2 separate regions of the Homo sapiens genome follow, and region 2 is linked to region 1. The links come from fine-mapping of genetic effects on gene expression. A gene starts in region 1. The other region holds a variant in brackets. All regions are shown on one strand. Distances are from middle to middle. Region 1 holds the start of PHETA1 (PH domain containing endocytic trafficking adaptor 1). Region 2 overlaps ACAD10 (acyl-CoA dehydrogenase family member 10).

What was found. PIP is the estimated chance that this variant, and not a neighbour inherited with it, causes the effect.
Region 2: its variant is fine-mapped to the expression of PHETA1 in whole blood (INTERVAL, PIP 0.92).

Annotation. Positions count from the first base shown.
Region 1 is chr12:111,364,660-111,372,983 of GRCh38, forward strand. PHETA1 (PH domain containing endocytic trafficking adaptor 1) reads right to left here and starts at 4,436. Exons shown (of 3, transcript NM_144671.6): 1 at 4,253-4,436; 2 at 1,454-1,598. LINC02356 (long intergenic non-protein coding RNA 2356) reads left to right here and starts at 4,602. Exons shown (of 4, transcript NR_187522.1): 1 at 4,602-4,661; 2 at 7,310-7,411. RefSeq lists a silencer at 4,027-4,606.
Region 2 is chr12:111,756,307-111,764,630 of GRCh38, forward strand. ACAD10 (acyl-CoA dehydrogenase family member 10) reads left to right here. Exons shown (of 21, transcript NM_025247.6): 21 at 27-793. The coding sequence ends at 167. Among named protein-coding and RNA genes, the nearest start is that of ALDH2, 6.5 kb to the right of the region's middle. RefSeq lists enhancers at 14-655, 1,297-1,938, 1,939-2,578, 5,358-5,893. The variant C/T (reference allele first, on the strand shown) is at 4,039.

The DNA of each region.
Region 1 (8,324 bases):
AGACTGAGGCAGAAGAATCGCTTGAACCCAAGAGGCGGAGGTTGCAGTGAGCCAAGACTGCGCCATTGCAGTCCAGCCTGGGCGACAGAGCAAGACTCCATCTCAAAAAAAAAAAAAAAATAGCCAGGCATGGTGGGGGGTGCCTATAATCCCAGGTACTTGGGAGGCTGAGGCAGGAGAAGTGCTTGAACCCAGGAGACAGAAGTTGCAGTCAGCCGAGATTGCACTACTACACTCCAGCCTGGGGACAGAGCCAGACTCCGTCTCAAAAAAAAAGAAAGAATTTGGGGAAAGATGCAGGCCCAGGGCTAGGCTGACTTACAGGAAGGAGGGGCAGGGGGTCGACCCGTGCCATTTAGCATAGAGGACTCTAACTCCATGCCATCGGCCACAGTGACCCCATCCACCTTCCCCCAAGGAGTATATGATGGGGCAACGCTGGCCAGGAAGGACTTGTCGGGAGGTGGCATCTGCGTCCCTGGCCTGGCCACCTTCCCTTGGGGTTTTCCATGGCCATTTTGAGAGCCTGCCTTATCTCCCACTGCAGAGCCTCAGCCTGCATAGGATGGTAGCTACATTTTTCAAGAAGCAAAGGATATAAAGTCCTGGTACGCAGTAGGCACTCAGTGTTCATTCCCCTGCCTGGGTGGTGTCTTTCTCAGAGCCTGGTGGAATGAGGTCAGGGTGGTGGCTCTCCTGGGAGCAGGTGACCGCAGTGAGGCCCTGCCAGACTACCTGTCCTAGGGTGGAGGGGGTTGTCCTTGCCACCTCCTGTCAGCCACATAGGCAGTCAGGGAAGGCTTCCTAGAAGACGGAACATGAGTTGTGACTTAGAAACTGAGATCAACCAACCCAAATGCCCATCAATGATAGACTGAATAAAGGAAATGTGGTACATACACACCATGGAAAACTATCCAGCCATAAAAAGGAATGAGATCATGTCCTTTGCGGGGAAATAGATGGAGCTGGAAGCCATCATCCTCAGCAAACTAACACAGGAACAGAAAACCAAATACCGCATGTTCTTACTCATAAGTGGGAGTTGAACAATGAGACACATGGACACAGGGAGGGGCAGAACACATATCGGGGCCTGTTGGGGGATCGGGGGTGAGGGGAGGGAACTTAGAGAACGGGTCAATGGTGCAGCAAGCCACCATGGCACACGTATACCTATGTGACAAGCCTGCATGTTCTGCACATGTATCATGGAACTTAAAATAAAAAAAGAAACTGAGGTCAGTTTGTCCTGACCTAGTGGGAGGCCAAGGCCAGAGCCCCCAAAGTCTCCAGGTGTTGAATCCCCACCCTGCCTCTCAGCTACAGCTGTCCCTCTCTAAGCCGCAGGGATTCACGCATTCCCCACACCACCACCCATCAACTCCCATGTGGATGCTGGCCCCGGTTCTCACAGGACCCTCCCGCCCTGCTTGCCCAGTTCCGCTCCTACCTCTCAGGCCACCACTTGCCTCCCTGCCCTCTGCTCAGCTCCAGCCTCAGCTCGCTCTTCTCTGGATTCAAATGTCAGCTCTGCAGCATCTGGGCTGGGGGACCCCAGGCAGGCTATTCATCTCTCTGGGCCTCTGTTTCTGCATCTGTAAAATGGGATCGTAACAGTGCCTAAGTCAGGGCTGTTGTGACAATGATACAGTGACTATATGGACTTTGCGGAGCATGGGGCCAGGCACACAGTGCCTGCTGAGCGCGGTTGCAGTTCACATTTTTCTTGGCTTTTCCCCAAACATCCCTGTGTTGTGCTTCCGATCTCAGCAAATGGCCCTTGGTTTCCCTCTCACCCCCGCATCTGATCGCACATCAAGTCCAGTTGATCCCCCTCTCCAGCGTCTTCCAAATCAGTTGCCTAATCTGTCCACTCCACCTCCCCATTCTAGGCCCCATCACCATTCACTGGGATGGCTGCTGTAGCCTCCTCATAAGTCTCCTTGCCCCTCCCTGTCCATGTTCCTCAAGGTAAGATCCAAGCCTCCTTCCTAAGCTCTTCTCCGAGCCACACTGAAATCCACTTCCCACAGATGGATCCTGTGAAAATTAAGTCCAATCACACTCCTCCTCTGCTCTAAACCCTCCCATGGCTCCCTACTTCTCTCAGCATAAAATTAAATCCTTAGGCAGGGTGCGGTGGCTCACACCTGTAATGCTGGCACTTTGGGAGGCTGAGGGGGTAGGATTGCTTGAGTTAGAGACCAGCCTGGACAACATAGCAAGACCCTATCTCTATAAAAAATAGAAAAAAAAATAGCTGGGCATGGTGATACAAGCCTCTAGTCCTAGCTATCTGGGAGGCTAACATGGAAGGACCCCTTGAACTTGGGGGGTGACATAGTGAGATTCTGTCTCAAAAAAAAAAAAAAAAAAATCCAAGCCTCCCTTGGCTTCCAAGTTCCCTTTCCCTACCTCTTTCCCCCTTGTTCACTCAGCTCCAGCCATCCTGGCCTCCTTTCTGTTCCTCAAATACACCAGACACATCCCCACCTCCAAGACTTGGTCCCGGCTGTCTGCCTGCAGGTCTTCACAAGGCCAGCTCCCCATCCTTTGGTCTCAGCCTAGCTGTCACCTCCTCAGAGAGGTGGTCCCTGGCCACCCTATGCACAAGAGGCCCCCCAGTCCCTCTCCTGTGCCTCCACCTGAAATTAATACCTGGGTCATTTCTGCCTGCAGGGGCGTTTGTGGTCTGAATTCTAGTGCCTGGCATGCAGTAGGTACTCACACAGCTGTTTGATTCATTCTGCAGTATCTTCTGAAACCTTTCAACAGCCCCAAGACAAGGGATCTCACCCCACATTCACAGATGTGGAAATGGACACAGGGAGATTCAATAAGTTGGCTAGAGGCATACAACTGTGCCCAGAATCACATGCTCCAGGCAAGCCACCCAAATAAAGGGGCTGATCTTGGGGTCTCTCCACCCCATCAAGGCCAAAGGAATAGCAACTTCCCTCCTGCTCAGCAACCCTCCTCCCCCGACTGCCTAGATAGAGGCCAAACTGGTTCAAGGTCACCAGCAGGCACAGGACCCAGCTCTGCCCATGACCCCTGCCTCCACCAGAACTGGGAAGACAGGAAGCTGCAGGGGCACAGGCGCCAGCCTTGCCTGGAGCGAAGGCCTGGCCCCTGCCTTATCTCCCCACACTGTTTTCCAAGAAGTTCAGAGTCCACTGTGGGCACTGCTGCTGATTCAACAGCCCATGGCCAGACAGGAAGCTGGAGGGAGCCTGGCCCAGCTCTGCTCCCAAGGCAAAGTTCCTGCCTCCGCAGGTCCAGGCTGGAGGACCTTGGACAAGTCGTTTCACCTTTCCAAGTCTCAGTGTCCTCATCTGTTAAATTGGGCTGTGTGGCGAGGGTTCATGAGCTAAAAGAAGGAAAACCCACTGGCAAACTATGGGAAATGGATTGCAAATATTAGCTGCTGTGAGTCGGAGTTTTTTCTCAGCCTCATCTGCAAAATGGTGACGTTAACTTCCATCCCTCTAAGGGCTGAGTGAATTGACTCCTGAAGAGTCATTTTGCAAAATACTTGGTGGGTAGTGAGCTTTCAGGGAAAGAGCTGTCAAAAAGGCAAATAATTCATCCAAGATCTCCAGGGGCACAGCTGGCCCCGGAACCCAGGTCTCCTGGGAGACTGAAGCATGGCATTTTGGCACTCACATCAACGAAAAGAAGCCAGTACCGCAGGTCCTGGGGTTGAATCCAGCTGCCCTCAGTGTCCCCCAGCAGCGGGCGTGGGGAAGAGGGTGTGGCAGGCACAGGCTGAAAAACATGTGTGCCAAGAACACTAAAGAGCAGCCTGGCCGTCACCGCCCCAGCAGGGACCCCAGAGACACGCCAGCACCGCCGTCCAGACACAGGCAGCCCCCTTGTCCACGGCAGGGGCTGCTGCTCCAGGTGTGGCCCTGCTCCCGGCTGCTCTCTGTCCCTTTGTGTGTTGTGCGTGGGAGCTCTCTTAAGTTCCTTAAAGGACAGCCAGAGCCCCAGATGGGTGATCAGCGGCAGAATGGGGGGCTTATCCGCAGTCCCCACCAGCGGCAGACGTCCCTATGGGCTGAGAGAGGGGAGGGTGGTCATTGGCCAAGTTCGCCTCGGCAGCTGGAGAAGTCACCACTGGTGCGGAGTCCCAGCGGGGAAGATCCCCGCAACGCGCTCTCCAGGTGGCCGGGGGACCCCGAGGCCCAGGGCGGCCCGACCCGGGTCCCATGTCCTCGTGCATGTCCCCCCGCCAGGCCCGCCTTACCTCGCAGCGCAGGCCTAGGGCGGCGACGGGACGGGAGGCGCGAGGTTGCGGGGTGGCCCGGCCATGGTTCGGGACTGGCCCGGTGGCGGCGACGGCGGCGGCAGCGCTTTGTCTCCTGGGCGGCCGGGCCGGCGCAGCCGCGGGAGAGCGCGGATCCGACGGAAGGAGGCGGGAGCAACCGGACAGTCCGCGACCCACGGGCGCGCCCCTTTAACCCTTCCCAGCCTGCTCGCGCCGGGCCCGCCCCCGCGTTCTTCCCACCTCCCGATTGGCAGGCCCCGAACCGGCACGCCCCCGTGAGCCCGCCCTCGAAATCACTCTTAAAGGGTCCGCTCCTGGCTCGCGACTCCCCAGTTCCCTAGCCCAGAAAAGCGGATTGGAGCCCGGGAAGCTCATTGCGATTCCAAAGGTAAGGACTGGCCCAGGTCGTGGATTAGCCTGCAAAAGCATTTGGGGGTCCTGGGCGGGCCATTCGCTGAAGTCCTAGGCTTAAGTCCGAACTCCCCCCAGGACGAGGCAGGAGGATTGCCTGAGCCTAGTAGTTCAAGACCAGCCTGGGCAGCAGAGGGAGACCACCATCTCTACAAATAATAAAAATATTTGCTAAACCTGGGTTGCCAGGTTTAGCAAATTTAATGCCCAGTTAAATTAGAAAAATAGCTCTAATTCCTGAAAAATGTGTGAGTGGCAGAAAAAACAGCTGAATCCAGGACATTTGCGTACAGCACTGTTCCATACGGACAGGGCGCCTCGCAAGCTTCCCCTGGCTCCAGGTGAAGAGAGGAAGTTCTGGAATTAGGCAGACTTGAGTTCGAGTCGCACTAGGCCACTGAACACTGTGTGAGCTTAGAGAAATCATTTCACTTCTCTAAGCCTCCGTTTCCTCATCCGGAAAATAAAGACCATCATGATATGTAAAGTGCACGGCACAACAGAAAGCTCTCAAGAAATAGGAATTGCTGTTGTTTTTGCCCTGCCCACCTCCTTGAACCCTTCCTTCCTGTTCCTGCCGCCTCTTCTCCACCACCCGCCACCTCCCAATCACTATTAAGTCCTGGCCTGAAAGCAGGAAGAACAGGACAGACCAGGGTCAGCTCTCCATTGTACAGCCTCTCACTAAGCGCCTACTGTGTGCCAGGCACTGTACCTGAACCAGGTAAGCAGGTGCAGCCAGGAATCAAGACAACACAAATGAGTTCTGGAAGTGATTCATGCTAGGACTGTACGCTAAGGCAATGGGGCAGAAAGCCTGGGAGTGCAGTTTTTTTGTTTTTGTTTTTTGTTTTTTGTGTTTTTTTGTCACCCAGGTTGGGGTGCAGTGGCACAATCACAGCTCATTGTAACCTGAACTCCTGGGTTCAACCGAGCCTCCCACCTCAGCCTCCCAAGTAGTTGGGACTACAGGTGTGTACCACCACACCCGGCTAATTTTTTTTAATTTTTTGTAGAGATCGGGGGGGTCTTGCTATCTTGCCCAAGCTGGAAGTGCAGCTTTTAGACAAGGTGGTCAGGGAAGGCCTCTCTGAGGACAGACCTGGAGGAATGAGGGAGGGAGCCATGTGGTTATCTGGGAGAAGGAGGTCCCAGGCAGAGGGAACAGCAAGTGCAAAAGCCCTGAAATGGGGCCATCCTGGGCATGTTTGAAGAACAACGAGGAGACCAGTGGAGCCAAGTGAGCAATGGGAAGAATAGTAGGAAAATAGGTCAGCTGGCTGGGCGCAGTGGCTCACGCCTATAATCCCAGCACTTTGGGAGGCCGAGGCAGGTAGATCACTTGAGGTCAGGAGTTCGAGACCAGCCTAGCCAACATGGTGAAACCCGGTCTCTACTAAAAATACAAAAAAAAAAAAAAAAAAAAATTAGCCAGGCATGGTGGTGTACACCTGTAATCCCAGTTACTTGGGAGGCTGAGACAGGAGAATCACTTGAACCCAGGAGGCAGAGGTTGCAATGAGCTGAGATTGCACCACTGCACTCCAGCCTGGGTGACAGAGCAAGACTCTGTCAAACAAAAAAAAAACAAAAACAAAAAAAAAAACACAATAGATCAGAGATTATTGGCAAAGCCAGAAAGCCAGGTGACCTAGGGGCTTAAGGACCAGAGGAAAGATTTTGCTTTTACTCTAAGAAGAATGAGGAGCCATGGGAGGGTTTTGAGCAGAGGAGGGACATGGTCTGTGTTAGATTTAACATGGTCCCTGACTGCTATGGGCAGGGAATGATAGTAGAAGCCAGGCGATCAGGGAGAACACTACTGCAGTAGTCCAAGCAAGTGATGGTGGTGGCTTAGAGTGGAGCAGTGGAGGTGGAGAGAAGTGGTTAAGTATAGATATATATTTAATGGATATATGTATTAGTCCGTTTTCACACTGCTGATAAAGACATACCCGAAACTGAGAACAAAAAGAGGTTTAATTGGACTTACAGTTCCACATGGCTGAGGAGGCCTTGGAATCATGGCGGGAGGTGAAAGACACTTCTTACATGGCAGTGGCAAGAGAAAGTGAGGAAGAAACAAAAGCGGAAACCCCTGATAAACCCTTCAGATCTCGTGAGACTTATTCACTATTATAAGAATAGCGTAGGAAAGACTGGCCCCCATGACTCAATGACCTCCTCTTGGGTCCCACTCACAACACGTGGGAATTCTGGGAGATACAAATCAAGTTCAGATTTTGGTGGGGACACAGCCAAACCATATCATTTTGCCCCGGCCCCTCCAAATCTCACGTCCTCACATTTCAAAACCAATCATGCCTTCCCAACAGTCCCCCAAAGTCTTAGCTAATTTCAGAATTAACCCAAAATTCCACAGTCCAAAGTCTTGTCTGAGACAAGGCAAGTCCCTTCTGCCTATGAGCCTGTAAAATCAAAAGCAAGCTAGTTACTTCCTAGATACAGTGGGGATGCAGGTATTGGGTAAATACAGCCGTTCCAAATGGGGGAAATTGGCCAAAACAAAGGGGTTACAGGGCCCATGCAAGTCTGAAATCCAGTGGGGCAGTCAAATTTTAAAGCTCCAAAATGATCTCCTTTGACTCCGGGTCTCACATCCAGGTCACGCTGATGCAAGAGATGGGTTCCCATGATCTTGGGCAGCTCCACTCCTGTGGCTTTGCAGGGTACAGGCTTCCTCCTGGCTGCTTTCACGGGCTGGTGGTGAGTATCTGTGGCTTTTCCAGGCACACAGTGCAAGCTGTCAGTGGATCTACCATTTCAGAGTCTGGAGGATGGTGGCCCTCTTCTCACAGCTCCACTAGGCAGTACCCCAGTAGGGACTCTGTGTGGGGGCTCTGAACCCCACATTTCCCTTCTGCACCACCCTAGCAGAGGTTCTCCATGAGGGCCCTGCCCCTGCAGCAAACTTTTGCCTGGGCATCCAGGCATTTCCAAACATCTTCTGAAATCTAGGCAGAGGTTCCCAAACCTGAATTCTTGACTTCTGTGCACCCACAGGCTCAACACCACATGGAAGCTGCCAAGGCTTGGGGCTTCCACCCTCTGAAACCACAGCCTGAGCTCTGTGTTGGTGCCTTTCAGCCATGGCTGGAGCAGCTGGGACACAGAACACCAACTCCCTAGGATGCACACAGCACAGGAACCCAGGGCCTGGCCCACAAAACCACTTTTTCCTCCTGGACCTCTGGACCTGTGATGGAAGGGGCTGCCAGGAAGTTCTCTGACATGGCCTGGAGACATTTCCTCCATGGTCTTGGGGATTAACATTAGGCTCCTTGCTACGTAATGCAAATTTCTGCAGCCGGCTTGAATTTCTCCCCAGAAAATGGGCTTTTCTTTCTATTACAATTTACTTCTTATTTTTTTCTTTTCTTTTCTTTTTTTTTTTTTTTTTTTTTTTTTGAGACAGAGTCTTGCTCTGTTGCCCAGGCTGGAGTGCAGTGGTGTGATCTCAGCTCACTGCAACCTCCGCCTCCTGGGTTCAAGCGGTTCTTCTGTCTCAGCCTCCTGAGTAGCTGGCACCAGGTGCACGCCATTGCACATGGCTAATTTTTTGTATTTTTGGTAGAGATAGGGTTTCACCATGTTGGTCAGGCTGGTCTTGAACTCCTGA
Region 2 (8,324 bases), 390 kb after region 1:
GCCTCCCTCCACTCTGTGTCTGCCAGGCCTTTGGAGCAGCAGGCCTGAGCAGCGACTACCCACTGGCTCAGTTCTTCACCTGGGCCCGAGCCCTGCGCTTTGCCGACGGCCCTGACGAGGTGCACCGGGCCACGGTGGCCAAGCTAGAGCTGAAGCACCGCATTTAGAGCCTTGGGGCTGCAGTGGCTCAATGTCCTGGCTGGTCCAGCTGTGCCCAGATCTGTCACTGATGTGCCTCGAAAGATCCGGTGTTTGTGGCTCCTGCACCCTGCTCAGCAGCTCTGTCCCGGGACAGTCAGGGTGGACTCAATCTTTCTGGTTCTCCACAGAAGACGTCTCTGCAAGAAGCCTGGAGTCTGTTTCAGGCCAGGAGGAGGGGATTTGCTGAGGGCCAAGGGGGTTCTGGGACAGAGTCTGGAAAGCTGGTCTTCAGGCTCTCAGTCCCAGGCTGGGCAGGCACGGTCACTTCACTTCAGCCTTTCAGTCCCTCTCTCTCTGCCTGTGGGAATCTGGACACATTTTGGGAGGCCTCCCAAGGCTGTGGGACGTGCTTGCTCTGGCAGCTGCAGGGTTCCTGTCTGGCCTCCCTGGTGAGCAGAGGGGCGGCCACGGCGGGCGGTGGCCTAGAGACCCAGGACCTGGGCGCCTGGGAAAATGGAATGCAACCCACATTGTAAAGCCACTGGCATCTGATTATCTCCATTTGAACACACAGCACAGAACAATCATTTAAATGTTATTTTGGAAAGGGGTTTTGGGGACACAGAAGAATAAGTAAACACATCTCGGAGGCTTTGTGGACTTTCTGTGTCATACAAAGAGAATCGAGTGGAGAGGTTCCCTTCAGCGCCTTCATGCCTCCTCCTGCCTGTGTTTCCTCGAGGTCCAGGCCATCATCTCAGCCCCATACATGCTGGGAGCACAGAGGCCACGGGTCCGATAAGTCCCGAGTTGGCTGCCTTCCCTCACTATGTAGCCCGGGGCTCTGTGCTCATACATACTTTACCCAGGAGCTGGCATGTGAGGCCCCTGCAGCCTCCACCTGCTCCATAGTCAGAATATCTGGGCGAAGGGGAGGTGGTGGCCCATTCGCCATTACACTTTGGAGCACAATCTCTCTTCTCTGAGGAGAGTGGAAATGCTTACTCACTTGCAGTCTGAGCTCCTTGAGAAACCCAGCGACATGCAGAGGTGAGCCAGGGGCAGTGAGGCCCCAGCCTGCTCGTCTCATAACTCGTGGTGGGGTAGCCAAAACTCGTCTCAGGTTAGACCAGACGGGCAGGAACCATCCCCCCCGGCTGCCACCTTGCAGAGGTGACCCTGTGGGAACTGCCTTCCCTGAGAATGGCCAGCCAGGATCAGCACCATGAGGGGCCCGTGAATGGGCTCCTCAGACCCACATGCCCAGGGGTCTGGGGAGGCAGGTCCCCCTTCACCACACTTGAGAAACTGCTTGTTGCTCAAGGAAGTTAAACCCCAAACAAATGCCTGTCACAATGACAGCCACACTGGCCAGGAGCCCACTGCTAAGCTGGCAGGAGCGCAGCAGCTGAGTGCTCCCTCAGGCTCCGGGAGGAGAGGTTTTCTTCAAAAAAAAGGAAGTGGTCGTGGCCTGGCCTGTCTCATGGGCCTAAGAATGTCTTTCGTGGCCTCTGAGGTTAACCTTGCCTGTTCAGTAACGCAGCTGCTGAGAGGAAAATGGGAGTCAGGCTGTGGGTACCCCCATATCTCCCTCAGATCCTCTGCCTTGAGGGCTAGAGACCCCGGGGGCCCCAGGAATGCTGCCTGCAGACAGGCAGGTCCCCCCCAGGCCCTCCACCTCTGCTAGATCATTCTGCCCACCACTGTCGAGGGAGCCTCAGCTCTGGGCCCAGCAGGAGTCCAGGCCTTGGGGAATGTGCAAGTAAACAAAACAGGACAACTGCTGGCCTTTGGGGGTTTGCATCTCAAGTAGGGGATGGCGGTTAGTGCCCCAGAGGCCTGGGCGTGTGATGGGGCAAGCACTGCTGGGGCTGGAGGCTGAGGGGAGGACTCTTTCCAGAAGAGGTGTCTCAGCCAAACCTGCCTGACAAGAAGAAAGGGCAGGCTGGGCGCCGCGGGTCACACACATAATGCCAGCACTTCGGGAGGCCAGATGGTGTCTGGATGCCAAGACCTGTGCTCGCCAAGGCCTGATTTCAGATACCGTCAGATCATTCCACAACAATCCTACAGAGGCTGCAAAGAGACACTTCCAGGCAACTTGTCTGGGCAGGGCCCCTTCAAGACGGCAGCTGGGAGTGACACCGAAAGAACAGGCTCCAGTGATCTCTGCTGCTTGTACCCATTGTCAGTCCCCCAGGGTTGTCGGTCACCACCCAGGGCTTCAGAGTTCCCCAGGGATGCCTCGGGCGTGCCAAGGCTGTCACTCAGAGACCCCTCTTGTTGGTATTTCTGCTGCCCTCCCTGCTGCGACATAGGTACAGATTTCTCCCCTTCGTCCATTTTACCAAAATGGATGCGCGTTGGGACAGGTGAGTCCCGGACTCCAGCGGCCTGGGGCCCACACCTGCAAGTAACCTGGGACAGGGTTTCTTTTAATCAAGTTGACTGAGTGGAGAAATGGCCCAGGGGATTTTCTGTCCTATCAGTGTTAGACGGATGACACAGTGGTGAAGAGCTGTCAGAGGTAAAGGCGGACACTAAAGTGGTAGGGACAGGTTTTATTTATTTTTCTGAGACAGAGTCTCACTCTGTTGCCCAGGCTGGAGTGCATTGGTGCCATCTTGGCTCACTGCAACCTCCACCTCCTGGGTTTAAGCAGTTCTCCTACCTCAGCCTTCCGAGTAGCTGGGATTACAAGCATGCACCACCATGCCTGGCTAATTTTTGTATTTTTAGTAGAGACAGGGTTTTGCCATGTTGACCAGGCTGGTCTTGAACTCCCGATTTCAAGTGATCTGCCTGCTTCAACCTCCCAAAGTGCTGGGATTATAGGCGTGAGCCACCGTGCCCAGCAGGGACAGGTTTTAATCAGTCATAAGCCATTGCTTTAGAGAGCAGGGCCCAGCGGGAACTGAGCTCCACTTGGATTTGTGCGGAGGTGATGGGAGGGGTGGTGGTTGGGAGGGGGGCTCAAGAGTCAGGAAGGGGAACCAGAGAGAGCAGGAAGGAGTGTGGTTGGCGTGACACCTGTCTGGGTTTGCTAACTGGCGCTTAGGGTTAGGCTCCTGCCCTCCCTTGGAGGCTGGGGGACAGGGTCCATCTTCTAGTGTTGCTGGAACAAACAGTAATTTCTTTCAGCAGCTTTGGGCTTTCTCAGGCAGGTACGGGCATCCCACAGATGTGGTCTTGAGATGTTGGACACCATGTAACTTAAGTCTTTTCATGGGAGTATGGGGGTGTGGACTTAAGCATTTGTGCTGAAAGTCTGCAGTTTTAATATGCCAAGTTTGAGGTCTAGTGGAGATGGGAGTTCAGAGGAAGGCTGGCGAGAGCGTGCTCAAGGAGAGAATTTTTGTCAGGACTGTGGCTCTAGATTCAAATGGCCCAAATTCAAATGGGTTTAAATCCTGACTCTGTGACAGAGTAGCTGGGCAACCTTTGGAAATGTTCCTTCATCTTAGAGACTTAGATCTCTCGTTTTATTTATTTATTTATTTAAATTTTTTTTAAGAGACAGAGGTCTCACCATGTTGGCCAGGCTGGTCTCAAACTCCTGAGCTCAAGCAATCCTCCTACCTCAGCATCCCAAAGTGCTGGGATTATAAGCATGCGCCACCACACCCGGCCAGATTTCTCATTTGAAAAATGAGTAGACCAGTCCTTGCTTCCCAGAATCACCTGAGGATTAAATGGGATGATGTGTGGCTTACCATAAGCCACAGCACACACCAGCTGTTCGTGTGTGGCTGGAGTCAGGAGCGGGACCCGCTAAAGAGGAGGCGGCTGTGCTCACATTGGAGTGCAAGAATGTGGGGCCTCATCTGGGCTGAGGACTAGCCTGGACCACATAAGATGCCATGCTTCTCACACTCAACTAGCAAAGGAATGCCCCTG[C/T]GATCAGGTTAAAATGCAGAGCGTGGTGCGGTGGGCCTGCCTTCCTAACACACTTGCAGGTCATGCTCCTTGTTTTGGGACCCACTTTGAGAAGCGAGGGTGAGAAGGGCTTGACTTCCCTAACCTGATCCCCAGGGGAGGCAGAATGAGCAGACACCGCCTGGCTAGAATCATAAGAGCTACTGGGTATTTAGTACATACCAGGTGCCAAGAACTATCTGTATATTATTATTATTATTGTTTTTTGAGACAGAGTCTCACTCTGTTGTGCAGGCTGGAGTGCAGTGGTACGATCTCAGCTCACTGCAGCCTCTGCCTCCCGGGTTCAAGTGATTTTCCAGTCTCAGCTTCCTGAGTAGCTGGGACTACAGGCACGCACCACCACACCTGGCTAATTTTTGTAATTTTAGTAGAGACGGTTTCACCATGTTGGCCAGGCTTGTCTTGAACTCCTGACAGGTGATTGACCCACCTCAGCCTCCTAAAGTGCTGGGATTACAGGCATGGCCACTGCGCCTGGCCAGTTATTTTGAACCCTATAACAATTGGCAGATCCTTTTATTCTGCCCCTGCTAGAGATGAGGAGACAGAGGTTCAAAGGAATTGTGCAACTTGCTTAAGATCACACAGCTTGTCAGTGAATTCAAACCTAAATTCAGAAGATCCCAGAGCTCTTTCTACTCCATGGCATGGATCGTTAAGATCACCTCTGTGAGGTACTGGCCTCCTCACCTAGGAAAGGAGGAAGATGATGAGGCTCATGTCACCAAGGAGAGCGTGCTGTGCCCTCAAGAAGTGCATGAGCTTCTGATGCTTCCAGAATAATCTCCGGGATGCCCCCCCGACTGCCTCTTAGGGGGTCAGGCTCCATGATGGGGGTGTCTGCCCTGTGGCCCTGGCTGCCTGTGGAGTGTCAAGCCAGCTGTGTGTCCGAGAGAGAGAGAGATTGTGTGTGTGTGTGTGTGTGTGTGTGTGTATGTGTGTGTGTGTACATATGCAAACAAGGAGGGCAGAGCTGGGGCTCAGGGCTGACCATATTTTTCCTCCTACCTGTGAGGGCAGATGTCTTACTGTGTTTTGTTTTGTTTTGCTTTTGAGACGGAGTTTTGCTCTTGTTGCCCAGGCTGGAGTGCAATGGCATTATCTCAGCTCACCGCAACCTCCGCCTCTCGGGTTAAAGCGATTCTCCTTCCTCAGCCTCCCAAGTAGCTGAGATTACAGGCATGCACCACTACACCTGGCTAATTTTGTATTTTTAGTAGAGATGGGGTTTCTCCATGTTGGTCAGGCTGGTCTAGAACTCCCAACTTCAGATGATCCGCCCGCCTCGGCCTCAAAGTGTTGGATTATAGGCTGAGCCACTGCCCCCAGCCAGATGTCTTCCTGTTAAAATGGGGCTTTAAATTCCTCACCTAACATCATTGTTTGCAACAACAGCAACAAAGAGCTTCCATAGACAGAGTCAGTGTCCCAGAACGGGGACTAAACAACCAAACATCTAGAATCTCACCAGTCAGTGACCCTGAAGGAGACCTCAGTCACAACCTTTGTTGGAGAGCAAGTGGAACTAGGGTTTTTTAAAGCCTGAAAGCACATCAGTTGTGCCCTAACAATGAAAGGTTTCAGAGTAGTTGAAAGCTAGGAATTTGAATATCTTAGAGGAAGTTAAGTGGCTTGAGGTGCTTCCACCGAAGGTCTCAGCACCATGAGAATGCCTGTGCTTCTGCCGGCCCCATTCCTGCCAGTGAGCCCACAGACAAGGGGCGATGAAGAACCAGGAAACAGATGGAAAGAAACGTGGAAGAGAGGAAAGCCTCAGACTGTCAGGGTGAAATCTAGGTTGAGAGTTAAGTTTTAGTTCATTCTTTGGAGAGACTGAGCCACAAGGAGCCATAATTACAATAGCGTTTCAGCACATCCAGGTGATCTTGGTCTGCAGTATTTGGTTGAGGACTGTGTGAAAGCAGCTGAGGCCAAATGTGGTGGCTCACACCTGTAATCTCAGCATTTTGGGAGGCTGACTTGGGTGGATCACTTGAGGCCAGGAGTTTGAGACCAGCCTGGCTAATATGGTGAAACCCTGTCTCCACTAAAAATACAAACATTAACCAGGCATGGTAGTGCATGCCTGTAATCCCAGCTACTTGGGAAGCTTGAGGCAGGAGAATCGCTTGAACCCAGGAGGCAGAGGTTGCAGTGAACTGAGATGGTACCACTGCACTGCAGCTTGGGCAACAGAGAGAGACTCCGTCTCAAAAAAAAAAAAAAAAAAAAAAAAAGCAGCTAAGGAAGGCTACTATGGTCACAAAAGACTTCCCAGAAGATGGGACTTGGGCTGGATCTTGATAGGGAAGATTTCCATAAGGAGAGAGGGCAGGACATGGGTGGAACAGGTGCACCAACAGTAGGGCACCAGGGATGAGAGAGCTGCTGGTTAGGATTATGGTGAGCACCACAGACCACAGACAAACCAGAATAAACGAACCTGTGGACCAGCGTGTCCTGCACTGAGACACACACCACGCACACCAACAGGGACGAAGCACGTTGCCCACATTGTATCGATGTATGCGAATGTGGATAAGTCAGCTCATTTTCTCCTTCCCCTCCCCACAACCAAGTTTACTGCTGCTCCTGGCTCCCCCATCCTGGGGAATAGCACATGGTAAGAACCTCAGCACCCACTCCACTCCTCTCGCCCTCATCTCCACACAGCTACCTGTCAATTCCACCTTCACACTCTTTCTGCCAACTGAGCCCTCCTCATCTCTCTGCCTCTGGCCTGCCTCCCCACTACAACTGAGTTTCCATGCAGTTCTCAGAGGAATCCCTCGAAGGCACATGTGCAACCTCATCACTTCCAGGCTGAAAGATCTTGGTTAAGAGAAATATTAGTACAAGCTATTAAGACTTAGGAGGCTGCCGGGCATGGTGGCACATGCCTGTAGTCTCAGCATTTTGGGAGGCCAAGGTGGGCTGACTGCTTGAGCCCAGGAGTTCAAGACCAGCATGGGCAACATAAAGAGACCCTATCTCTACAAAAAAAAAAAAAAAAAATTAGCTGGTGCCTTAGTCCGTTTTCATGCTGCTGATAAAGACATACCTGAGACTGGGCAATTTACAAAAGAGGTTTAGGCCAGGTGCGGTGGCTCATGCCTGTAATCCCAGCACTTTGGGAGGCCAAGGCAGGTGGATCACCTGAGGTCAGGAGTTCGAGACTAGCCTGGCCAACATGTTGAAACCCCATCTCTACTAAAAAATACAAAAATTAGCCAGTCGTGGTGGCACGTCTGTAATCCTAGCTACTTGGAAGGCTGAGGAAGGAGAATCGCTTGAATCTGGGAGGCGGAGTTTGCAGTGAGCCAAGATAGCACCACTGCACTGCAGCCTGAGTGACAGAGCTAGACTGTGTCTCAAAAAAAAAAAAAAAGAAAAGAAGTTTAATGGACTTATAGTTCCACATAGCTGGGGAGGCCTCACAATCACGGCAGAAGGCAAGGAGGAGCAAGTCACGTCTTACATAAATGGCCGCAGGCAGAAAAAGAGCTTGTGCAGGGAAACTCCCGTTTTTAAAACCATCAGATCTCGTGAGACTCATTCACTATCAAAAGAACAGTGCAGTAAAGACCTGCCCCCATAATTCAGTCACCTCCCACCAGGTTCTTCCCATAACATGTGGGAATTGTGGGAGTTACAATTCTAGATGAGATTTGGGTAGGGACGCAGTGAAACCATATCAGTCAGGCATGGTGGCATGCACCTGTAATCACAACTACTCAGGAGGCTGAGGTGGGAGGATCAATTGAGCCTGGGAGGTCGAGGCTGCAGCGAGTTGTGATTGTGCTACTGCACTCCAGCCTGGGTGACAGCGAGACCCTGGTCTTGGGGAAAAAAAACAAGAAGACTTAGAAAGCTACAGTGATGAAAACAGTGTCATACTGGCACACGCATACAGAGATCAATGACACAGAATATACAGTAGTTCAGAAATAGCTACTTACAGTTACTTAGTAGTAAAAAGATGACTGGCAGGATGTATTTGTGCCATATATGATAGACAAAATGTTAATTGCCTGGATACATATAAAGCACCTACAAATCAATTTCAGAAAGACCAACAATCCAATAGAAAAGTGAGCCAGAGACATGAGCAGCTAGTTCATAGCAGAGGAAACATGCATGACTTCATCTAGGCAGAGATGCTCAAGCTCACTCGTAAAAGAGAAGCAAATTAATGTGGTAGTGAAATGCCACTTTTTCGTCTCTCAGATTAGCAAAGCTAAAAA